Linked DNA regions of Homo sapiens. The protein of the gene in region 2 purifies or fractionates together with the protein of the main gene of each other region. This does not show direct contact. Each region holds a gene or a part of one and is shown on either strand. Other genes may lie near its edges.

Region 1 (3,500 bases), on a different chromosome or scaffold from region 2:
TATTATTGTGGAAATAAACCAGGAGACTTTTACACATTTTACTGAAGTTTCTTTTCTTTCTTTTTTTTTTTTTTTTTTTGGCCGGTGGGATGGAGTCTCACTCTGTTGCCCAGGCTGGAGCGCAGTGGCACGATCTCGGCTCCCTGCAACCTCCGCTTCTGGGGTTTAAGCGATTCTTCTACCTCAGCCTCCCGAGTAGCTGGTATTACAGGCGTGCGCCACCATGCCCAGCTAATTTTTGTATTTTTAATAGCAACGGGGTTTCACCACATTGGCCAAGCTAGTCTCGAACTCCTGACCTCAGGTGATCCACCCGCCTCAACCTCCCCAGTGCTGGGATTACAGGCGTGAGCCACCATGCCTGGCCGTTTACTGAAGTTTCTTATGACAAGCATTTGCATTAGAGGTGCAATGTAAATTAAATTCATACTCTCGAACTATTTTCTTTTTAGGGTCCTGGTTCTTATATCATGAACTACATAATGTACATCTTCTGGGCCTTGAGTTTTGCCTTTCTTGCAGTTTCCCTGGTAAAGGTATTTGCTCCATATGCCTGTGGCTCTGGAATTCCAGAGGTAAGCCAAGTAATATTTAGTGTCATTAAACATTATTATGATGCTTATCTTTTTGACCTTAGTGATAATAAAAGTTGGCTTTTCTGGAGGGAGGGGATAGTTTGTTCATAATATGAAAAAAAAATTTTTTTAAGTATAAGCTGATGGTAGACATCATTGAAAAATATTGTTCCCCATAGTCATTTGGTCATTTACTGTGAAGGCTGATTTTTTTTTTCTCTCACCACTAATTTAACACATGACTAGGCAAATTTTCAGACTATTTAGTTAAACATCAAGAGCCTGGAAGAAGTATCTTGTGACCTAATGTTCTTTGACGGGTTAGTTGTTACTTTGCTGTTATGACCCTGAATTTTTTTTTTTTGAGACTGAGTCTTGTGCTGTCGCCCAGACTGGAGTGCAGTGGCGCAATCTCAGCTCACTGCAACCTCTGCGTCCCAGGCTCAAGCAATTCTTGTGTCTCAGCCTCCTGAGGAGTTGCGATTGCAGGCACCTGTCACCATGCCCTGCTAATTTTTGCATTTTTTTGTTTGTTTTTTTTTTTTAGTAGAGATGGGGTTTCACCATGTTGGCCAGGCTGGTCTCAAACTCCTAACCTCAAGTGATCACCCGCCTCAGCCTCCCAAAGTGCTGGGATTACAGGTGTGAGCCACCACACGTGGCTATGACCCTGATTTTGATTCATTCACTTTTTATAATTACCTTTTGATTAGATAAGTTAATTATTCTTGAATTTGGCCATTTTATGCTTTGAGAAAGTAGTTAATCACAGTGGGTCAACAGTACAAACTTTTGGGTTTTATTTTTCATCACAATAAAGTAGAGTTATACATAGGATTGATTGAACTTGATTTGAACTTATCTCTTCTCTTTTATTTTTCTGTAGTTAAATAAGTTACCAACTTTTTCCTAATACATTTCTTTTTAAAATGGAATTGTATTGATCTTTAAGTTTGTATTAAGAATATCTTTCATAAAAAGCAATATCATGCAGTATATAACAGTTGTTACTCATTCTTGATACATAAAAAACTATTGCACATAATTACAGTACTCAGAGAAAACATAATATTCTTATTTCTAACATAATGTCCAAAATATATTTAAAATATTATGCTTATTTTTACAACAGAAATATTCAAATTTGCCCTTTTTTTGGTTATGTAATTATAATCCTTATAATTAAGGTCTGTATTCATTTTAACATGGCCTGATATTTTGATTTTGTTCCTGAGATAGTGTTGCCCTCTCTCCTTTCTTGGGTAGAGAATTAGATTATAATATCAATTTATTATATGTAGCATAATAGGCAAAGTTTTCGAAAAATTAACTGTAAATTTTTCTGTAGACTGCTAAAATTTGCAAGGTTGTTTTTGTGCATAAAACAAGAAAATAACTTGGATTCGTTACATTCTCATGTTTCTTAAAGGACATTAAGCTGCCTTAATCTTTGCCTTGTAGATTAAAACTATTTTAAGTGGATTCATCATCAGAGGTTACTTGGGAAAATGGACTTTAATGATTAAAACCATCACATTAGTCCTGGCTGTGGCATCAGGTTTGAGTTTAGGAAAAGAAGGTCCCCTGGTACATGTTGCCTGTTGCTGCGGAAATATCTTTTCCTACCTCTTTCCAAAGTATAGCACAAACGAAGCTAAAAAAAGGGAGGTAAGTGTCTTTTGTAGTTAATTTGACTGAAAAATATATATTATATAGTATTTATTTAAGTAAAGAATTTCTTAGTGTAAAAATAATAAATTCTGTATTCAGATAAAAAATTTTGAGATTTGTGCTTCTGTTTTTCCTGAATAATCTATAACATCTTTCTAGAATCCATTCCCAGTGCTGCTCAGTTCGTCTTACATTTTAGAGAAGCTTTAGATAGACAGCTGGTGTCCATTGGGTTTCAGCTGCATTTCACGAAGATCTTCCTGTTATCACTTTACCTTACATCTTTCCTCTTCTGAAGTGTTTTCTAAGCTTAGCTTTGTTTTTCACTCTTACTTTCAACATTAAGAGGTTGGGAAATCTTAATAGCTATGTTTTCCTCCTGGAGGCAGTGTCTGGTGCCAGTGTAAGTGGTGTGTGATATGAAAAATGCTATCCAGTGCTATGGGGAAGTTCTGAGGGCCTTTAGAAGCTCTTGAAGTTTAAATCAGAAATTCACATTAAAGAGATTACAGGAAATCCTTTTCATTTGATTGTTTAAGGCAATTTCCTTTACCATTTCTTTAGGCCAGCCTGAGATCTTCTACAAGACCTTGAAACCTTATATATATTATGGATTTCCTCTGATGTTTCCATATTGCTCTGGGCATTTTCCTGAATCCTTTATATTAGCTCTAGACTTTGGGAGCCCAGTCCCTTCCTATTTTCCAAATCTAAATCTACAGCCCTAGATGGTACAGAGATCTTTGAGTTTTTAAGATATGATTTTTTGAAAAACATCTCATTAAATACTGGCAGAACCTTTTCATCTTGTTGAGTTTTTTAATGTACTGTAACCAAAAAAGTAGAATATTTTATCAAACTGTTTAATCTTCAATTGAAATAATTCTAGTACATTTTAATGTTCGCATTAAAATATTGTCCTTGCATTGGACGTAGATATCCCAAAAGTGGAATACTTCAGATTGTCGTAGTTTCATCTCTGAATAATTGTGATTCCAGTACTTTATAACAAAAATAGCTAGCATTATTGATTACTTTCTGTGTATCTGGTACTGTGGCAGATACTTTACTTGGATTTTAATACTTAATTTCACAGTAATTTAGTAATATGGCCCTGTTATCCTCATTTAGTGATTAGTAAACTAGGGCTGAAAACAGCTAACTAACTTGCCCGAGACTACATACCTAGTAAGTGGTGGAACGTAGGTTAAAATTCATTTTTCTTTGACTTCAAAGTCTGTGGTCTTACCTACT
Region 2 (3,500 bases):
ACCTTTACCTCTGGGTCCAAACAATTCTTCCTCAGCTTCCCAAGTAGCTAGAATTACAGGTGCGTGCCACCATGACCCTGCTAATTTTTGTATTTTTAGTACAGGCAAGGTTTCACCATGTTGGCCAAGCTGGTCTTGAACTTCTGACCTCAAGTGATCCACCCACCTTGGCCTCCCAAAGTGCTGGGATTACAGGCATGAGCCACTGCACCCAGCCACCAAATAATTTTAAAAGTATAATGAGAAGAGGCTTGCCTGCCACCATGTAAGACATGCCTTTGCTCCTCTTTCACCTTCTGCCATGATTGTGAGGCCTCCCCAGCCATGTGGAACTTATATTCATTGCTCAACAAGGAAGAGACTTGCAAGGCTATTACCCTGGGCAGTTGGCAAGACTCCATTTTGATCATAGTGCAAAGAGAGCTCTCAGATTGGAACAAGAAATTAGCCACAGATTCACTGAATCCTTGACCTCTTAGTTCACTGCCACAGCTCTACTATTGTGAAGAGAGAAGCGGTTTTGAAAGAAATGCTTTTAAATTAAAATAACCAAGGCATTCGAACAAAATATCGTTTGGCATTCTTAGGTAACTCTTTTAGACTAATGTAATGGTAGCAAAACTACTTTTAAGTGTGTATACAGATGGCTCTAATCCTAAAATATTTACATGCTGCAAATTATTTTCAGATTAAGTTGGTCAGCTTACAACAGGGGATCAAGAGCTAGCCTTAAGAGAACTTGTTTTTTACCCCATTACCAGTCTTATTGCTGATGCTGGCAAACCATCATACATTTAGGCCAATGGTTATATGTAGGCTCAGGTAAGAAGATTACTGCATCTGCTCAGTAAGTGCATCACCGTTGGGAAAAATAAAAAAGAACCTAGGGGACATAGCCAATGAGGAAGAAGACTGGCACTAGAGACCCTAAAGGGGCTTGGGATGGAGAAACCCAGGTGTAGCATAGGGCTATAGTGAGATGTGGGACTGGTAAAAAGGATTAAGTGAACATCTGTACACAGGAGTTAACACCCTTATCTGGGCAAGAAGAAAGCCTGACAACTAGGCATCAGCTCCTCAGGCAGAAAGCTAAAGGGTCTTCTCTAAGGACAGGAAAGGATCCCAAAGAAAAGAACCTTTGCGGGGCGCAGTGGCTCACGCCTATAATCCCAACACTTTGGGAGGCCGAGGCAGGCAGATCACCGGAGGTCAGGAGTTCAAGACTAGCCTGGCCAACATGGTGAAATCCCATCTACTAAAAGTACAAAAACTAGCCAGGTGTGGTGGCAGGTGCCTGTAATCCCAGCTACTTGGGAGGCTGAGGCAGGAGAGTCGCTTGAACCCAGGGGGGCGAAGGTTGCAGTGAGCCGAGATCGCACCACTGCACTCCAGCCTGGGCGACAAGAGCAAGACTCTGTTTCAAGAAAAAAACAAAAAAACCTTACCAGTTCCCCAGCATACTAGTGGGCTCCCTCCTCATTTACCCCAAAGTAACACCTATCAATTAATAAACTTCTCCCCCCAAAAAAAAGTATAATGAGGATTAAAGGATATAGATGAAACAAGAGTGTCCCCAAGTTAATGACTAAGTGACAGACATAACTGAGTGATAGGTACACAAGGGCTTATTGCTCTCTATTTGGATGTATATTTGAGTTTTACTATAATAAATATTAAAAAACAAACAAGTCTTCAAAATGTGCAAAGCTTTTCAAGAATTTATCCCCTTACAAATTTTAGCAAAAATGAGTACAGAAGAGGAGGCAGGGAAAGGCAAGGCTCAGAGGGATTCAACAGTATAAAAAATAAAATAAAATAAGAATAAGAACAAAGATTTGGCTATAAGAATACAATCACAGTAATATTTAGAACGGGAAGGAAATGTGTTATGTATTTTATAGTAAAACCTGAGACAAAGAGCAGAAACCATTAAAAACAATCTAGACGATTAAAACACTTAAGCACAAGCTGGAAGACCCTGGATACAAACTTGACTCTGAGCTTCCTAGTGGCCAAGGCAGAGAGAGGAAAACATCAACATAGTTCTAGTATACTTAGAGGTATACTACAGGCGCATGCCACCACACCTGGCTAACTTTTGTATTTATAGTGGAGACGGGGTTTCACACATGTTGGTCAGGCTGGTCTCGAACTCCTGACCTCAGGTGATCCACCCTCCTCAGCCTCCCAAAGTGCTGAGATTACAGGCATGAGCCACTGTGCCTGGCCAACACCTTGTATATTTTATGCTTTCTGAAAATGCTAAATATCAAATAAGCCACTGGTTCCCAAATGTTTTGATCATGAATGCCCAACAACAAAAATTCAAGTATATGCTCCCAATACATGTACACTTACATATAAATTATATATGTACTACAGTGATAATACAGTGTACATTATAAAGTACATAATAAAAATTATTATGGTGGTTCATGCCTGTAATCCCAGCACTTTGGGAGGTTAAGGTGGGTGGATCACTTGAGGCCAGGAGTTTGAGACCAGCCTAACCAATATGGTGAAACCCCATCTCTACTAAAAATACAAAATTAGCCAGGTGTGGTGGTGCACAGCTGTAATCCCAGCTACTCGGGAGGCTGAGGCAGGAGACCAAGATTGCAGTAAACCAAGATAGCATCAATGCACTCCAGCCTGGGCAACAGATTGAGTGAGACTCCATCTCAAAAAAATAATAATAATAATTAAATGGGGCCGGGCGCGGTGGCTCACGCCTGTAATCCCAGCACTTTGGGAGGCCGAGGCGAGTGGATCATGAGGTCAGGAGATCGAGACCATCCTGGCTAACAAGGTGAAACCCCGTCTCTACTAAAAATACAAAAAAATTAGCCGGGCGCGGTGGCGGGCGCCTGTAGTCCCAGCTACTCGGGAGGCTGAGGCAGGAGAATGGCGTAAACCCGGGAAGCGGAGCTTGCAGTGAGCCGAGATTGCGCCACTGCAGTCCGCAGTCCGGCCTGGGCGACAGAGCGAGACTCCGTCTCAAAAAAAAAAAATAAAATAAAATAATAATAATAATAATAATAATTAAATGAAGCTGAAATAAACAGGAAAATTAGTTTTATTTTTTTCCTGAGATCCACGTGCATCTTTATGCTTACATACCAACTTTGGACCCCACTGCAAAGCTTCCTTATGATTTAGCATCCCTGCAACCATTCTAGGTTAGTGCCCTTGACTGCTTAAGCAGAAACTGTCAAATGGCAGTGGTCAAATTGCTGTCACCTTCTTGCTGAGTTCCACCATCCCCACACTAGAGTCAGTGACGCTGGCTTCCTCCCACCACCCCTACCACCTTCTTCCACTACCCTTACCTGCCAATGAGCAACAGAAAAGACTGTGGGCTGCGTGCAGTGGCTCACGCCTGTAATCCCAGCACTTTGGGAGGCCGAGGCGGGCGGATCACCTGAGATCGGGAGTCTGAGACCAGCCTGACCAATAGGGAGAAACCTCGCCTCTACTAAAAATACAAAATTAGCCAGGCG
Region 3 (3,500 bases), on a different chromosome or scaffold from region 2:
CAATACAAAACCAAAACCCGCAAGTAATTTTGCTATGGAGAATTTTAAACATATGCCAAAAATGAGACAAAATAATATTACAAACTCACATGTATACATCCTGTGCTTTAACAATGATCAACTCATGCCCAATCTTGTTGGATCTGTATCCCCAGCCACTTCCCCCCACCCATATTATTCTGAAGCAAATCCAAGATATTGTATACTTTCATCTGTAAATATTTCAGTATGTTTCTTAAAAATACAAACATCTTTAAAAGTGTATAACAACAAAGCCATTATCACACCAAAAAATTAACAGTAGTTCTTAAAATTTATCAAATAGTCAATTGTCAAATTTCCACTTGTGGTATCCATGTAGTATATGTGTATGAGTGTGTTTATTATACTTTGCTTAAATCAGGATCCAGAAATGGTCCACATATTGTGACTGGTTGATACATCTTTTAAGTCTGTCTGTCTATCTATCTATCCATCCATCTATCCATCCATCCACCCATCAATCCATGTATCTGTCTAAAAGTTTCCCTTGCACAGTTTATTTGTTGAAGAAATAGGTTGTTTGTCCTGTGGAGTTTCTTAGGGTCTGGATTTTGTTGACTGAATCCCTGTGGTATTATATGCTCTTCTGCCTCTGTACTTCCTGTCTATTGATAGATAAACCTAGAAGCTTGTGAGATTGAGGGGTTTTTTTTGGTCTTTTTCCAGCAACAGTACTTTTTAGGTGGTGATGCATTCTTCCTCCAAGAGGCACACAATGTCTGGTTCTCTATTTGTGGCAACATCAGCCACTGATGAGCAGTACCTACATCCATGACAGAATTAGGGCTGCAAAAGGGAGATACTCTATCATTCTTCATGTATTAGCTGAAGTAGTCTATGAAGGGAGACTTCCCCTCATCTACCATTTCATTACCCGGTGGTACAGTTTGATGAGGAAAGGCAGAGTGAGCATTTAGATCTCTTCCTACATTTACCAGTTCTCAAAAACAGCTACTTCATCCAGGGCTTTATTTAAACATTTTCCTAGACACTTGATAAACATCTTTTTTGTGTAGAGAACTGCGCTGGGCACTCTGACGGCTACAAAGGTGAGTTGGGCACAGTGCCTGCATTTAAGGAGCTCCCCGTCTAATCAAGCAAGACAGAACTGGGCACAAGTAATAGGAAGCAGTAACTGAAAAGATCTGGGGCTAGAGGCAATGCTGTATGGTAGGAGAAGGGACTGTATATCCTTTATATTGCAAATTGGAACACTGGGGTATTGGTGCCACTTTTAAATTCCGTCCAAATTGTACATTTAAAAGTGGAGAATCTCTTTTGAGTATGGAGGAGGAGCAGTGCAGTTGTGAGTGGAGTGTGTGAGGAGTTGGGAGGGTGGTTTCTGGTAGAAGTGTGTTTAATTAGCCGGCTCTCCCATTCCTGTTTTCCAGACCCTGGTATACATATATGGGGATATGCTCAGCAACGTGGGAGCTGCAGAGAAGGTTTTCTCCTACATGGACCGACAGCCAAATCTGCCTTCACCTGGCACGCTTGCCCCCACCACTCTGCAGGGGGTTGTGAAATTCCAAGACGTCTCCTTTGCATATCCCAATCGCCCTGACAGGCCTGTGCTCAAGGTGCCTGAAAGAGGGAGGAAACCTGGACCCTTGCTCTCTGCTGCTAATGCATAATTGGACATCACAGCCTATAGTTCATTTGCCTCTGAGAACCTGGTCTTGCCTCTGCTAAGAAGAGAAATGGAGGGATTTTGAGGGAGAAGGGGCAGGCCCTTAACTCTTTTTCTGGTTTTCTAGGGGCTGACGTTTACCCTACGTCCTGGTGAGGTGACGGCGCTGGTGGGACCCAATGGGTCTGGGAAGAGCACAGTGGCTGCCCTGCTGCAGAATCTGTACCAGCCCACAGGGGGACAGGTGCTGCTGGATGAAAAGCCCATCTCACAGTATGAACACTGCTACCTGCACAGCCAGGTGGGTGAGGAGGGAGAAGACAGGGGACAGGAGAGGGGAGCATGTACAGAGAGAGGATGGGAGATCCACGGGAAGGCGCACCAGGTGTTCATTCTGAGGGAGGTAGGTGGGGAGGACAAAAGGGCCCCTGCCTTGGGGGTTTACACATAGTCCTCTGCCCCTGTCCCTGCTGCACAGGTGGTTTCAGTTGGGCAGGAGCCTGTGCTGTTCTCCGGTTCTGTGAGGAACAACATTGCTTATGGGCTGCAGAGCTGCGAAGATGATAAGGTGATGGCGGCTGCCCAGGCTGCCCACGCAGATGACTTCATCCAGGAAATGGAGCATGGAATATACACAGGTATCTTCTACAAATTGTAAGCTTGCTCCTTCAGTAAAAAAGAGAAAATCAGACTTACTCTTAGTGGTGAAGGTCGTGTCCCTGTAGCTTGATGTTTGCTGTTCCTCTGCCCTTTCCTCCATTCCTACGTCTCCTTCCCCACACACTGAATTCTTCAGCCTCCCTCTTGATCAAGAGTCTTTGTTTGCAGAGAGCAATGCAGCAGTGGTGCTCCCTCCGTGGGCAGCCCCGTCAGGTCCCCACCCCATGGCCCTCCTCCCACTGGGCCCTCCCCGCACTGGGCCCTCCCACCTCCCGAGGTCCTACTGGAAGTACCTGCTGTGCACTTGTCCCTCCTTGTGTGTTGTCTGTGTCACTTGTATCTGAGGAAGGGAATTTCTCTGATTTCCTCAGATGTAGGGGAGAAGGGAAGCCAGCTGGCTGCGGGACAGAAACAACGTCTGGCCATTGCCCGGGCCCTTGTACGAGACCCGCGGGTCCTCATCCTGGATGAGGCTACTAGTGCCCTAGATGTGCAGTGCGAGCAGGCCGTGAGTACCGTGAGAGGGCAGGGGACAGTGGGGCCTGGGAGGGGCATGCTGGGAGGATCAGACTGTGCAGAATTGGGCAGAGGGAGGACGAAGGACCTACTAGTGGAAACAGTCTGTGCCTTCTTGGGGTTGGGGAATGGAATCCGGTGGTGTGAGGGCAGCCCCAGTTCCCTCCTGGGCTTCCATTCCTCCAGCTGTGGCAGTACAGCCGGGAGAGAAGGGCAGTCCAGGCCTTTATCTACTGCCCTTTCCTACCTTCTTTTATTTCACACCTTCTTTACCCTAAATCATAAGAGATGGTGCCCAGGTGGATGTGGTGTCCATCTCATTCCTGTCTTTCTGAGGCACTGTGATCACCCCTTCAGCTGCAGGACTGGAATTCCCGTGGGGATCGCACAGTGCTGGTGATTGCTCACAGGCTGCAGACAGTTCAGCGCGCCCACCAGATCCTGGTGCTCCAGGAGGGCAAGCTGCAGAAGCTTGCCCAGCTCTAGGAGGGACAGGACCTCTATTCCCGCCTGGTGCAGCAGCGGCTGATGGACTGAGGCCCCAGGGATACTGGGCCCTCTTCTCAGGGGCGTCTCCAGGACCCAGAGCTGTTCCTGCTTTGAGTTTCCCTAGAGCTGTGCGGCCAGATAGCTGTTCCTGAGTTGCAGGCAC
Region 4 (3,500 bases), on a different chromosome or scaffold from region 2:
CATTTTGAAAGAGCAGAGGGGCAGTTTTTTACCCAACAAACTAAATAATATAAAAAGGGCTTTGTTTTTTCATGGATCAGGCCTCTGGTATCTATATTCAACTGGTGCTTTTTAAGCGTATACAAGTAATTTTTATCAACCTGGTTGTTGTTTCATAGCGTTGATGTGTAGTATCTCTTTATAGGATGCAATTTTGAGACACAATCTGCACCTTACTCTCAATTAGGCAAGTATACCTATTGTAATTATCTTTTACTTACGTGATTGGTGTGCTCAATTTCCTTCACAAAATAAATGGCGGCAACTTGTCTTATGTCAATAAAATTGTCTAATTGTCATTCTAACCCTATTATAGCAGTTTCTCAAACTCTTAAAAAATGGAAAAGATGCCTGTAGTGTTTAATGTTATGCCTCAAACCTTACTTTTCCCCCAGTTTTCTTTTACATCAGTGCAAAGCACTCTTTATGAGCACTAAATGTGGGTAAAGGTACAAGTCAGAGAGCACCTGTTTAGTATATGTGGCATTTTAAATTGAGTCCTTTTGGGGTACTAGTCTATCAAGAGAGACACATTTTCTTATCCATGTCAATTTTGCTTCCTATCTCTCTCCCCCATGCCTTTCACTTGGAATGACAACAGTTGACATTAAAAAGCTGTTGGCAGGTATGGAATAACCTTATTCTGTTACCAAATAGCAAAGACCAAAGTGCATGTGAGGTGTCTCACAGGTTTAATAAATCAGCAATTACATCTCTCGAGTGTGATATTTATAGGTGGCATTTAGAACTTGGGGCGTAACAATGCGTACAAAGACATCATTCTATCTGCACCTAATGTCCGAAATTCCTACTGCTCCAGCAAAATTTCTGACGTGTTAGTTTCAGGAGTAGCACGCAAACTGTGTTTTTTAAGTTATGCAGACAGCAACCTGTCCTACATGCAAGTCACAATCACTCATGAAAATTAGTTTATGTTGCTTATAGCTTCGCAGCTTGTGAGCTTTCACTAGAGCCGAGGAAGACTTCAAAGCGACTAGATGTTAGCACTTCTGCCGAAGGGATATTTCCTGATTTCACTCCATGTGTTTTATCCCTCCTCCATCTAGGACTCTAGCTCCTAGCCTCCCCGCCTCAGGGGTTACACAGGCATCTTAGCGCATCCCCTCTCCCTTTATGTCTCTGGTGCACTGTTCTGCCAGTCACCAGGTGAAGGGACTTGCACCTTCCAAAATCGATGCCACTTCACTCCCGGATCACCTGGTTGGGAGTGCAGTCTGAGCCAGGTAACCCCTGCTGAATCGGTCGTGTGTCCTCCGTCTGCTTCTGGTGCAGAGAGTACCAACTCCCAGGACGTGCCCCTGTCTGCCCTGGCCCTGGACGCCTCCTTCCTGCATGGCAGCATGAAAACGCTACACAACGCTCCTCACCCGCCCAGGAGTATGTTATGGTGCTGAGCTTGTTGGGTCTGTCTTAATAACCTGATTCCCTTCTGTTGTTCCCAGTGGCCTGGTTTGCTTTCGACCCTGGCTCGGCGCACTCGGACATCATCCTCTCCAATGACAACCTGACAGTGACCTGTAGTAGCTATGATGACCGGGTGGTGCTAGGGAAGACTGGCTTCTCCAAGGGCATCCACTACTGGGAGCTCACGGTAGATCGCTATGACAACCACCCTGATCCTGCCTTTGGTGTGGCTCGCATGGACGTGATGAAGGATGTGATGTTAGGAAAAGACGACAAAGCTTGGGCAATGTATGTGGACAATAACCGGAGCTGGTTCATGCACAACAACTCGCACACCAACAGGTACCCTGCAGCCCCCAAACCAAGCCTTCTTCACGTTGGCTTCTGATCAGGAGTGAGAGCCCCAGTTCAAAAACCTATTACATAGACCACATTCAGGAAATCAAACAGGTGGTCTACATTAAGTAGCACAGGCAATCTATGAGCCTCAGCTGAGTCCATGCTGGTGGTTTACTTTCTATATAATGATAGAGACTTGAGTACTTTCCTACTCCCTTCATTGCTGTATTTCACCCATGGCTGGAAACTAAGAATCCCAATGGATATCCATTATAAGAAAACAATCCAGGATGCTGAAACACCCAGACCTACAACTTAACAGAAAAGCACTTTTGGGCAAGTTACTTCGTTTTTTGAACCTCAGTTTCCAAATCCATCAAATTAGTACAATAAAATTTTTCCTTGTGGGAATCTTCTGAAGATTAAATGAAATATGTGAAAATGCCTTACATTGGAAGCACCTGAAAATAGTAGCCATTCTTCTTATTACGATTCATTAAACTAAAGCTTATGGATGCCAATTTGAATGGCTTTCTACTTATAGAGAACTCTCTTATTACTGTATTAATCCAGAGCAGCCAGTTTGCTAAGGAAAGGAAATACAGTAATCTCCTTGAGGTTTTCTTCTACCACCAAAATATAGATCATTATAATTGAACACATACTATAATGGATTTCCTTTCTCATTTGATTGTGTTCCTCAAATGTATTTTTCACAAATTTCCTAGGCAGAGAAATTTCTACTGTGGACCCTGGTCCACCTTATGCTCCAAGATTTCCCCAGGATACATTCTCATTAGTGTCTCTGAAAAAAAAAAAAAATACAGTAGTGTTCAACCAGATCAAAGGGAAAGCAAGTCAGACATTGGTAGGATAATTGGACCCCACTGTTTTATCTTTTTCTGTATGCTCATCACTGACCCTTCTCCAGCCTGTAGACTCCTAAAGCCTCCTTTTCCCTTGGATAGCTTCTATAGCATTCAAGTGTGTATTATTCGCTGTCACTTGAAGTGAACACACACACCATTTCACCATGAAAGCAAATCCTACTGGATGTAGATAAGTGGTTATCTTCAGTGATCGGCATTTTGTGGAACTCTCTGTCAATAGATTCTCAGTGCTATCACCCAAATGCCACACTTACTTTTTCCCTTTTAGCGTCTTTGTTTTGAAGTGCAGGAGTGAATAATGACATAACCATCACACTATGCAGAGAAACACATTCTTAATGCTGAACACATCTGCTTGCATGCAACCTGCATGTCACTTGTGCTTTCATTGTTAAACCTGTGAAGTAGCAAGAGGCAATTTGTAAACCTGTCTTTTAATGACTATGTACAGTCTGTATCCTGCATGCAAGAGGAAATGAATGACACAAATTCCTGTGCTCTGCTGAGATGAGGACGAAGTTCAATATTGCTAGATCTCAAAAAAATGGGAAAGACAAATCTGATCGTCCATTTTTAATGGCATTTTGTGAAACCATCAATTGAAGCATAAGACACAATTCTTTGTAAAATGGCATTTGTATGCAGGTTCTTTAAAATCACTACATCTCAGAGTATAATTATTTCACTGTACAGAGAAGAAGCCTCTTCTTCAGTGCTGTCATTTCACAGACAGCCTCCAAGTTCTTAATTCAAATGCAACAAGCCAAAAAACTGCTATCCTTCTGGAATGAGTTTTTCTGTTTAATG
Region 5 (3,500 bases), on a different chromosome or scaffold from region 2:
GTGGCACAGGGAGAGCATGAGCAGGGTGCACCCTCTCTTCACCTTCTTGGCCAACCGCCTTGTTGCACTCTCTCTGAACAGCACTAAACGTGTGGATCATTCCAACACCCGCCTGGTCACACAGCTGGACAGGAACCCTGGTGTGTACCCAGCCATCCAAGGGGCTTTAGGGCAGGGCCTCCCTGGGGAGGGAGCCTCGCTAACTTGTCACTTTGTCCATTTGCCCGTCTGTTCTGGGTCTTAGGCGCTGATGACAACAACCTCAACTCCATCTTCTATGAGCACTTGACACGTTCGCTGCAGCACACACTGTGTGGGGACCTGGTGCTGGGCCGCTGGGGCAACTATGGCCCTGGTGACTGCTTCGTCCTGGCCTCTGACTACCTCAACGCCCTGGTGCACCTCATCGAGGTTGGCAATGGCCTCGTCACCTTCCAGCTGCGTGGCCTTGAGTTCCGGGGTGAGCCGCAGGACCAGGCTCGGGTGGGCAGGCACAGCTCGGGCCTGATGTGGGAGCTGTGTTCAATAGCACGTGCGAAGGAGGTCCAGTCCAGCTCTGTCCAGGCTGGCGGGTGGCCTTGGGCAAGGCACTCCTCCTCCCTGGGCCTGCGTTTCCCAGTCTGAGCAATGAGGTGGCAGGGTCTCTTGGCCAAGCCCTGTGCCTGCCCCAACTTTAGGTCCCAGTGACTCTACAGGTCACTGCAGTGAGGGCCTGGGCCTGGAGGTCTGAGTTCTCACACCCAGCCTGCTCTGTGGTCTCAGGCTTGGCCCATGGGTTGGGCGCCATGAGTGAGCCAGCTCCTTCCTCTCAGGAAGACGTGTGTGTTGGATGCCCGAGAGTGCAGAGGGGCCAGACCGTGTCCCTGCTCCCTCCCGCCCTGCCCTTGGATGCTGGGAGTTGGGAGGAGAAAGGCAGGCGCTCTTTCGTGAATCTTGGCATCCAATAAGGTTGACTCCCCTGGCGTCCAAGGGGGTGAATGGCAGCAGGCCTCTGATGCCATGTTGGTCACTCTCCCAGGACAGGGCAGGTAGGGATTGTTCTAGCAGCCCCTGACTGCACACCCCTCCTCCACAGGCACTTACTGCCAGCAGCGCGAGGTGGAGGCTATCACCGAGGGTGTGGAGGAGGACGAGGGCTGTTGCTGCTGTGAACCTGGCCACCTGCCACGGGTCCTGTCCTTCAATGCTGCCTTTGGGCAGCGCTGGCTGGCTTGGGAGGTAACAGCCAGCAAGTACGTGCTGGAGGGCTATAGCATTAGTGACAATAATGCTGCCTCCATGCTGCAGGTTTTCGACCTCCGCAAGATCCTCATCACCTACTATGTCAAGGTACGGTGGGCAGGTGTGGCCGGGCAGCAGGGCCCTTGCGGGTGAGCGCTCGCTGACCAGAGGCCCCAGTACCCCCTTTCTGGGTTGTTGGGAGCCTGTTTTGTCCAAGGGAAGCTGAGGCCTCAGAGAGTTTAAGTGTCCCCTGAGGTGCCACTGCCAGACCTCAGGTTGCAGGGGCCTCTGTGCCCATATGGCTCTGATAGGTGCCCAGGCAAGGAAGGCTTGCTTTGGGCAGTGAGTATGGGGCAGGTGGGCAGTTGCAGAGGCCAGCCTTTGAAACCACCAGCCCCTGCCCCCAGCTCACCCAGCACAGAGCAGTGGTAGAGCTAACAGTTGTCACGTTAACGATCATCATGGGAGCAGCTGCTTGAGCAGTAACATTTACCACGGGTGGGCGCTATGCTGGGCATCTCTCCTGAGCTGGGTGGAGTCCCCCACCCTTTGAGAGGGGCCCTGCTATCTCACAGATGTGGAAGTTGGCTTGCAGAGGTTCCAGAATCTGAAGAAAATGGCCAAGCCAGGCCTTGAACCCAGGCTGGCCCTGAGCCACAGAGCTTTCCTGCCTTAGCCTGGGGGCTCTGAGCCAGGCCTGAGGATCTTGAGACCTCTTGGGGGTGGGAGGGGGTTGGTGAGGCAATGTGGGGTACATAAGGAGCCCTGGAATGGGGGTTCTGATCAGCCTGGAATGTTTCTTCCCTGTGTCCCTCAGCTTACCCCTTGAGAAGTGGGGGTTATTGCAGTTCTCTGAGATGGCAGAAATGTTGAGGCTTGGCCAAGCGTGGTGGCTCATGCCTGTAATCCCAGCACTTTGGGAGGCCAAGGCAGGTGGATCACTTGAGGTCAAGAGTTTGAGACTAGCCTGGCCAATGTGGCGAAACCCCATCTCTACTAAAAATACAAAATAATTAGCCGGGTGTGATGGCGGGCACCTGTAGTCCCAGCTACTTGGGACGCTGAGACAGGAGAATCACTTGAACCTGGGAGGCAGAGGTTGCAGCCAGCCGAGATCGTGCTACTGCACTCCAGCCTGGGCAACAGAGCAAGACTGTCTCAAAAAAAAAAAAGGAATTTTGAGGCTTGTGGTGCTCAGAATAAGCGTACTGGGAGTGGGGTGGCCTGCTGATCACAGTGCAGGCTCCCACGTGCCTTCTTAGGATCTACCCTGGTGCTCCCTATGTTGGGCTCGGTGGGTGGCCTACTGGGGCCCAGGTGAGCCTGCCACCTAGGTTCTCTCTGGAGTAGTTTCACGAGGCCCTGGCTGTCCTTCTCCAAAGGAAATCCTGTCCACACCACATATCAGAGGAGCTGTCATTTGTCATTCCTTCTGCCCTCCCAGCCACTCCTAGGCAAGGATTTGTGAGACCACCCCCCTTTCATCAAGAAGGAGGCTGTGTCTAGAGAGGGACATTCCCAGTCCCAGGTCACCGAGAGGTCATGGCCTGGTCCACCTTCCGGTCCCATCTTGAGAGAGGTGCCCTTGCCCAGGTTGCCCTGCTGTGCCTGCTAGGCTAGGGCCAGCAGGTTGAGATGCACCTGGCCAGGTCTCTTGTCCCATGGGGAAGCTGACTGGCCACATCTAAGGCTGCCTCAAAGGCTGGGCAGAATTTGAGTCTGGAGGAAGTGCTTGGAGGACCTGGGGTGGCTCCGCTGAGGATGTGGACTGAGGGTGAAGCTTGGAAGGACAAGTCAGGGCTGCCAGGGGTGGGGCGGGGGGAGGCGGGTGTGCTGGGGAGCCTGGTGCATCTGGGGAAGTGTCCCAGCTGCAGGGATAGGTCCTTTCCAGCCTTCGAGGTTGGCCAGTCGAGGCGGAGCCCCTCCCGTTAGCTTTGCCCTTCCCGTGGGAGTTACTGGGCTCTCAGACCTGCTTCTGCAGCTGGGAAGGGCTACAAGAGCAGGAAAAGGCACCGTGGCTTGAGGCTGCACGGAGTCTGGGCAGTGCTTCCCGGGAAGTACCTTGGGCAGAGCCCAGCTCGCAGTGAGCGCTCACAGGCGGAGCGGCTGCTGGTATTGCCCCCCGTCTTCATTTTCTTCCTAAGATGACCGTGAGTGTTGTGTCAGAGAAAAGGATGGCACTGGTGAAGGTTAACCAAGCACCTGATATGTGCCAGGCCAGCTCCTCTCCCGGTCCCTGAAGCTTTTCTTTTTTTTATTTTTTTTTGAAACAAGGTCTC
Region 6 (3,500 bases), on a different chromosome or scaffold from region 2:
AGAAACGTCTAGGATCACTTTACACTCTCAAGAGTATGTTTCTGTGCTTGAAGAGATGAATGAATGTGTATAGTAAAAGAACAACTCTTGGATTTGGGTTTAGAATTTGATGAGCTAGATGCTGTGTTAAGGAGTTATGAAACAATCACACATTGCTGTTTAGTGATGACAGTAGACACACAGTTTTCACAATAGTAACAGTTGAACAATAGAGCAGTAATTTTTCCTCTCTGCTATTCAGATGAGTGGGAGGAGCACAAACCTTTATTTGAGGTAAGGTGTGGCAATTTGCCCGAGGGAAACTTTTACATTAGCATTGGAAAGAACCTTTGGGAGTTTATTTAATTCAGTCCTTTATCTCTTTGTAGGAGTTTATTAAAATCAGTCTTGATAGAAAATTCTGTACTGTTTTTAAAGATCTCCAGGGGATTTGCAGCAAGTTTTTCTCTATAGCAAATTGGATTATTATTCCATGATCTTAATTACCAAATTTCTTCCTGTGGATTTAACATTTGATGAAATAAATGCCATGTTTTGGTTGCACCTGAAATATAGTAGTTTGTTTGTGTGTTTGTTTTTAAAACTTCACGTTAACAGCTCTTTTTAAAAGAGCTTCCATTTCTTTATAGAAGTTTTGAGATTTAGGTTTTCCTTTTACTTTCCTGAGTTAGTTAATAAGTGTGAAAGAAAAAAAGTTATCTACCTTTGAGACAGTTTTGACCCTAACTTTTTTCCCTTTGGGTGTAGTTTTAATGAGATATTAGAAGGATGAGAGCTCTCTGGCTTACAGAATAAAAAATTCTATCTCAAGGAATTGGGGCAAAAGTTGTGTTCTTATGTTAAATAATAAGCAAAGTAGAAAGAACAAAGTGTTAGTCTTGCTTCTTAGGAGGAGGCAAATAAATAACTAATAAAGCTGGTTTACTAAATAGCTACTAGCTTTTGTTTCCACTGAGGGAGAAACAGTAACTGGGGGTTTATATGTGATAGTTAAGGAAAAGGAGACGATAGTTATGAGGCTAGAACAGTAGAAATAGTTAGAATAGTCATATATCTATTTAGATTTAGCAGATCCTGATAAGATACCTCAGATACCTGAAGGCTTTTCAGAAATAATGTAATTTACAACTTGGAGGACAAGATTTTCATTTCAGTTTTCACTCTAAGGGGAAGCATATCTTGATTCTTACATAGCTGCATCTGAAGAATTCCAGAGTTATTTGAGATACTCAGGAATTTTCTTTAACAGGAATTCTTGGGAAATGTGTAAGCAGCTATGTTCTTAAGATAGTATTTTAGAACTAGGATGTTCAGAAAAGTCAGACTTGCCCACTTTTTAGGGTTTGCCCATGTGCCATAGAAATTTGCACCGCTTTGAGCAAGACAGTTAATTGGTTGATTTAATTAGATTCAGTTTTTGGAAGAAAGAAGCAGTGTTTATTGGTAGAATAGGCAATTCAGAGGGATGGGTAGAGGCACTGTTTGCATTCTGAGTGGGTGTGCCATACTTGATTAAATAAATGGTTTGTGGACTCAAAGTCAGTTCCCTTCTGGGTAGTTTCTGAGAAGCTTCTGTAATATAATTCACAATTTGTGACCGATAAAAAAGTAAGTCCTTTGCTCTTGACCCATTTACTGTTAGAAAATTTATCTTAAGTTTGTCTTTAAGACTACTTTTTATTGCAAAGCTTGAGGCAGCTATTCTTCCTTTTTTAAAAAAATAATTTTTACTTCTCATTATAGAAATAATACATGTTTAATGTGGGATCATAAAACATTGAGATAATCTCTGCGTTAGGTTTTTTTTTTTTTGAGACGGAGTCTCACTCTGTCGCCCAGGCTGGAGTGCAGTGGCGCCATCTCAGTTCACTGCAGCCTCCACCTCCCGGGTTCAAGCGATTCTCCAGCCTCAGCCTCCTGAGTAGCTGGGATTACAGGCATGCGCCACCACGCCTGGCTGATTTTTGCATTTGTAGTAGAGACAAGGTTTCACAGTGTTGGCCAGGCTGGTCTCGAACTCCTGACCTCAGGTGATCCACCTGCCTCCGCCTCCCAAAGTGCTGGGATTACAGGCGTGAGCCACCACGCCTAGCCGGAGGTTTGTTTTTTAATGTGGTCTATTGTAAATCCATCTGCTACTTTCCGTTAATTTCTTTTCTTTCTTTTTTTTTTTTTTTTTGGCGAGATAGGGTCTCGCTCCAGCCTGGCCTGCAGTAGCACAGTCATAGCTTACTGCGGCCTCAACTTCTCGGGCTCAAGCGATCCTCCCATCTCAGCCTCCCAAGTAGCTGGGTCCACAGGTGTGCACCACTACAGTGGGCTAATTTTTTTTTTTGAGACAGAGTCTTGCTCTGTCACCCAGGCTGGAGTGCAGTGGCGCGATCTTGGCTCACTGCAAGCTCTACTTCCCAGGTTCACACCATTCTCCTGCCTCAGCCTCCCGAGTAGCTGGGACTACAGGTGCTCACCAACACACCCGGCTAATTTTTTTTTTTTTTTTGTATTTTTAGTAGAGACAGGGTTTCCCCATGTTAGCCAGGATGGTCTCGCTCTCCTGACCTTGTAATCCGCCTGCCTCAGTCTCCCAAAGTGCTGGAATTACAGGCTTGAGCCACCATGCCTGGCCTTTTTTTTTTTTTTTTTTTGTAGAGATGGGTCTTACTATGTTCCCCAGGCTAGTCTCTTTTTTACTTAAACAAACAAACAAAAATAAATAAAAATATATATATATAAAGAGAGAGGGAGACAGAGAGAGAGGGAGACAGAGTCTCACTATGTTGCCCAGGCTGATCTCAAACTGTTGGGTACAATCGATCCTCCTGCCTTGGCCTCCTGAAGTGCTGAGATTATAGGTGTGAGCCACCGCACCCAGCCACCCAGGCTGGTCTCAGACTCCTGACCACAAGCATCCTCCTGCTTCAGCCTACCAAAGTGCTGGGATTACAGCCACTGTAGCAGACTATTTTGTGATAATTTCTAAGTACAGTGAAATATGCGGTTGTACTGATACTATGGGTGTGATCCAGTCTTACTCCAAAAAATAGGTATTAAGGGCTGGGCACAGTGGCTCATACCTGTAATCCCAGCACTAAGGGAAGCCAAGGTGTAAGGATTGCTTGAGCCCAGGAGTTCAAGATCAGCCTGGGCAACGTGGCGAGACCCCATCTCTATTTAATTAAAAAATAATAAGGTATATGACCAGGTACCGTGGCTCACGCCTGTAATCCCAGCACTTTGGGAAGCCGAGATGGGCGGATCACTTGAGGTCAGGAGTTTGAGACCAGCCTGGCCAACATGGTGAAACCCCGTCTCTACTAAAAATGTAAAAATTAGCCGGGTGTGGTGGTGTGTGCCTATAATCCCAGCTACTCTGGGAGTCTGAGGTAGTAGAATCGCTTGAACCCAGGAGGTGGAAGTTGCAGTGAGCCAAGATGGTGCCACTGCACTTCAGCTTGGGCGACAGTGAGACTCTGTCTCAACAAAACAAAACAAAACAAAAC
Region 7 (3,500 bases), on a different chromosome or scaffold from region 2:
CTTCATTTTCTGGTTTGAAGGCAATGACATGCTTTCATTCTTTAATCAGGAACATGTGAACCGACTGGCATTCTGTATTCTGAATTCCTCCTGGGACATTAGTGATGTGTTTTTTTGTAACTTAGGAATTGTACCTAATTTATTTTTTAACCAAATAGCATATCTTCTTGAGATGGCTAGCTGAGAAAGAGTATGACACAAGTGTGATCAAGGATCAGCAAAATTAACTACCCATGCAAAGATTAAACCTGTTACCTTTACTTCCCTAATGTGGTATTTTAACTAGCTGAGCTAACCACCAATGGAGTGATGGTATGGCCTTTCCTGTACTCAATTCAGTAATTGAACAGTTATTTATCGAACCCTCTCCAGATGCCAGGCACCCTGCAGAAAGTAACATTCTGAAAAGGAACAGCCATGCCTGTAGCCCAAAAGTGAGTAGTTGTATTAATGGTCCATTCCTTATTAACAAATTAATTTCCTCAGGAGTTTATTGGACCAGATATCAAAGTCCCACTGGAATGTCTTAAGTGAGAGAGAGGATAAATCAAAGTTTTCCTTATCCAGGCTTTTTGGATGTCTTTTTCCTGAGCCTCCTCTTCCAAGCCTGTTTTGCTCTCAGTCAGGATTTACCAGCACTCTGCATGTGTAGGCACGCTCACCTGCTTCCTTCTGTAGTGGTAATGACAACCTACATTTGTATTCTGCAGTTGATAAAGCCTGTTCGTGGTACAATACCTCATTTGACCCTCCCAACAACTGTAGGGTAGATGTTATCTACATGAAATTGAGTCTCAGAGAGGGTAAGTAACTCACCCAGGTTACACAGTAAGTAACAGAGATGACACACGAGTTCAGCTTTTCTGGAGCTAAGTTCTCCTCTTCCTCCACCCATGCCCAGCCACTCATATCCTAGGTGTAGATCAGAAGGTTCTTAAAAATATTGTTAGACTGAGCTTTAAAAGCAGTTTGGATCAGAGATTTTCATTGTCTGTTTTGTGTTCACATGGCAGTCGAAAGTCTCTAGGTTCCATTGCATTATACCCTTCTTAGAGGCTCCAGAATAAATTTTTTTATAGTGGTGGGGAAAAGCCCTTATTCTTAGAATAAGAATATAGATCATTGGTAATAGTAATCAGTTCCATTTCTTATGAGATACTTGTCAGGATTAAATGACATAATGAATTTAAAGTATATTGCCTGTCATAGCAAGCACTCTGTTACTGTTAGCTATTATCATTTATGACTATTGCTCTATGTTGTTTTTTGTTTGTTTGAAGAATGGGCTCTTAACCTTGTACGAGAAAGAAAAGGGTGAGGAAGAAAATGGATTGAAGGAATTGTAGGAGACTAAATGTTAAAAGTCATTAAACTACCTTCTGGTTTATCTAGAAATCCAATTGAGTGATTTGTTAGTAGACATGAAACAAAGATAGCTATGATTTTAATGAGAAGCCTTCATATTCAGAAAAGCTGCGTGGGAATTTTTGATACATACAATAACAGTTTGAAAGTACTAGCAGAGTTTACTTAATGAATTCTACTTTGTATTATTTAATAAAAATGACCCTATAATATATATGTCATTTCTCCTATTTTATATCTGATATAAAATATCATCTATTTTATAACTGATCTGCCTATTTGGGGTGGAAGATTAAGAAATACAATTCTTATGTGTGTGTGCATTTTTAAAATTAATAAACTTAGCTCTAGGTGGATTATTTTATATTTACTTTTACTTTTTTTTTGTTTTTTTTTTTTTGAGACGGAGTCTCGCTCTGTCTCCCAGGCTGGAGTGCAGTGGCGCAATCTCGGCTCACTGCAAACTCCGCCTCCCGGGTTCACGCCATTCTCCTGCCTCAGCCTCCGGAGTAGCTGGGACTACAGGCGCCCGCCACTACGCCCGGCTAATTTTTTGTATTTTTAGTAGAGACGGGGTTTCACCATGTTAGCCAGGATGGTCTCAATTTCCTGACCTTGTGATCCGCCTGCCTTGGCCTCCCGAAATGCTGGGATTACTGGGATTACAGGCGTGAGCCACCGCGCCCTGCCTACTCTTACTTTTGAATATGTACGTTTTGTAATTGTTAATGAACTAGATTCTTAAATAGTGTTGACATTGTTGGGACTTTGGATAGCCACTCACTTTTTCAGACTAATAGGGCATAATTTACTTTATTGTTTTCTATTACCTGAGATTGTGTTTATATATTATAAGAAAATCATTTTGGAGAAAAAAGGAGCCAAGATGCATCCTTTTGTTCTATGGACTGTAGTGATCTAACAGTTGATGCCCTGCTGCCTTCATTTACCCTCATTCCAGGAAAGTGGGCTATAGCTGGTTTGAACTTAAATTTTGCGATAATGTAGTGTTCACTGCAAAATTCTCTGTACCAGCCACATTTTAAACAAAGTGGAGGCAGCAGTTAGATTTCGTTGCTTAGCCTTTTCCTGTGGCAGTAAGTGGGATCACAGACTGATAGAATTTTATAGCTGAAAGAGACTTTAGGTACATAGGTATCTTTATTTTATAGATCTTGAAACTTCCCCACGATCAATGGGCTTGCTGGTTAAAAAAGCTGGGAAAAGACCCAGATCTCCAATCAGCTGCCTGCTCTGGAGAAAACGAACTCAAACCTTAGCCACCTTAAATATACCTTTTTTAGAAGTACGCAATGTATAAACACAAGTGAATAACTTAAAGAATAGTCTGTTGAGATGAAACAGAATAGTCCATATTTTGGGTGTGTGGAAGGTAATGCATGTCAAGGTCTACGTCTTCAAGAATTGTAACTCTTGGGGGACCACTGCCAGTTTGCAAACAATTCCACTCCTGGAAAAGGTTTAAGAGAGTTTCTCTCCTTTATGGAGTGCATAGCTAATACTTTTCAAAATAAGTGGATTCTCAGTCGTTCTGGTGAATTTTTTTAAGTTTAAATATTAATATCTCCAACATTCAACTTTATATTTTCAGGGATCGATTTGCTTAGTGGTATAATACCTGAACTCTGTCAGAAATATCCAGATTTAAATTTCATAATTGGAGGAGAGGGACCAAAGAGAATCATTTTGGAAGAAGTTCGGGAAAGATACCAGCTGCATGACAGGTATTGATGAATTTCATGTTGTCTTGAGGGAGAAGATGTCAATTATCTCTATTTGGTTTTAACTGCATGCGTACCTTAGGTGTGTTGCTTCTCCTGCATGTAATTGATATACATATAATTGATATAAATCTAATGCAAGGACTGTTTTCAAAATTTTTATATAAATAGGAAACCTAGTTAATTCACTATTTTTTCCATTAGCCCAATATTATTTGACTTTGGGGGGCCATTGTTGGAGGCACCATGAAAGGCACAAAAAACAGCTGCTTTAACTGGAAGCGTTTGCAGATTTCCAGGCCATACTGTGTAGTGATTTAAGTAATAGGGCTCAAATCATGTAAATTGCTCTGCACATACAGATTTGGACAAGTCTCTTCCTCAGTAACTTAC

The links.
Region 1: the proteins of SCAP (region 2) and CLCN3 purify together in Homo sapiens (affinity purification with mass spectrometry; one large-scale study listed by BioGRID and IntAct). This does not show direct contact.
Region 3: the proteins of SCAP (region 2) and TAP2 purify together in Homo sapiens (affinity purification with mass spectrometry; one large-scale study listed by BioGRID and IntAct). This does not show direct contact.
Region 4: the proteins of SCAP (region 2) and TRIM9 purify together in Homo sapiens (affinity purification with western blotting, with the first as the bait; one study listed by BioGRID). This does not show direct contact.
Region 5: the proteins of SCAP (region 2) and PCNX3 purify together in Homo sapiens (affinity purification with mass spectrometry; one large-scale study listed by BioGRID and IntAct). This does not show direct contact.
Region 6: the proteins of SCAP (region 2) and SPTLC2 purify together in Homo sapiens (affinity purification with mass spectrometry; one large-scale study listed by BioGRID and IntAct). This does not show direct contact.
Region 7: the proteins of SCAP (region 2) and PIGA purify together in Homo sapiens (affinity purification with mass spectrometry; one large-scale study listed by BioGRID and IntAct). This does not show direct contact.

Annotation. Positions count from the first base shown.
Region 1 is NC_000004.12:169,690,078-169,693,577, forward strand, and holds part of CLCN3 (H(+)/Cl(-) exchange transporter 3), read left to right. Parts: intron 1-452; coding exon 453-575; intron 576-2,036; coding exon 2,037-2,243; intron 2,244-3,500.
Region 2 is NC_000003.12:47,469,442-47,472,941, forward strand, and holds part of SCAP (sterol regulatory element-binding protein cleavage-activating protein), read right to left. Parts: intron 2,075-3,500; exon of another isoform or gene 1-2,074. UniProt on the Homo sapiens protein: Escort protein required for cholesterol as well as lipid homeostasis.
Region 3 is NC_000006.12:32,828,740-32,832,239, reverse strand, and holds part of TAP2 (antigen peptide transporter 2), read left to right. Parts: intron 1-1,433; coding exon 1,434-1,622; intron 1,623-1,799; coding exon 1,800-1,973; intron 1,974-2,150; coding exon 2,151-2,310; intron 2,311-2,703; coding exon 2,704-2,840; intron 2,841-3,205; coding exon 3,206-3,334; 3' UTR 3,335-3,500. UniProt on the Homo sapiens protein: ABC transporter associated with antigen processing. In complex with TAP1 mediates unidirectional translocation of peptide antigens from cytosol to endoplasmic reticulum (ER) for loading onto MHC class I (MHCI) molecules.
Region 4 is NC_000014.9:50,980,106-50,983,605, reverse strand, and holds part of TRIM9 (E3 ubiquitin-protein ligase TRIM9), read left to right. Parts: exon of another isoform or gene 1-184; coding exon 185-226; exon of another isoform or gene 227-324; intron 325-640; coding exon 641-664; intron 665-1,106; exon of another isoform or gene 1,107-1,283; intron 1,284-1,502; coding exon 1,503-1,806; intron 1,807-3,500. UniProt on the Homo sapiens protein: E3 ubiquitin-protein ligase which ubiquitinates itself in cooperation with an E2 enzyme UBE2D2/UBC4 and serves as a targeting signal for proteasomal degradation.
Region 5 is NC_000011.10:65,629,276-65,632,775, forward strand, and holds part of PCNX3 (pecanex-like protein 3), read left to right. Parts: intron 1-81; coding exon 82-140; intron 141-244; coding exon 245-460; intron 461-1,075; coding exon 1,076-1,329; intron 1,330-3,500.
Region 6 is NC_000014.9:77,610,138-77,613,637, reverse strand, and holds part of SPTLC2 (serine palmitoyltransferase 2), read left to right. Parts: intron 1-3,500. UniProt on the Homo sapiens protein: Component of the serine palmitoyltransferase multisubunit enzyme (SPT) that catalyzes the initial and rate-limiting step in sphingolipid biosynthesis by condensing L-serine and activated acyl-CoA (most commonly palmitoyl-CoA) to form long-chain bases.
Region 7 is NC_000023.11:15,325,524-15,329,023, reverse strand, and holds part of PIGA (phosphatidylinositol N-acetylglucosaminyltransferase subunit A), read left to right. Parts: exon of another isoform or gene 1-710; coding exon of another isoform or gene 711-803; intron 804-2,977; coding exon 2,978-3,110; intron 3,111-3,500. UniProt on the Homo sapiens protein: Catalytic subunit of the glycosylphosphatidylinositol-N-acetylglucosaminyltransferase (GPI-GnT) complex that catalyzes the transfer of N-acetylglucosamine from UDP-N-acetylglucosamine to phosphatidylinositol and participates in the first step of GPI biosynthesis.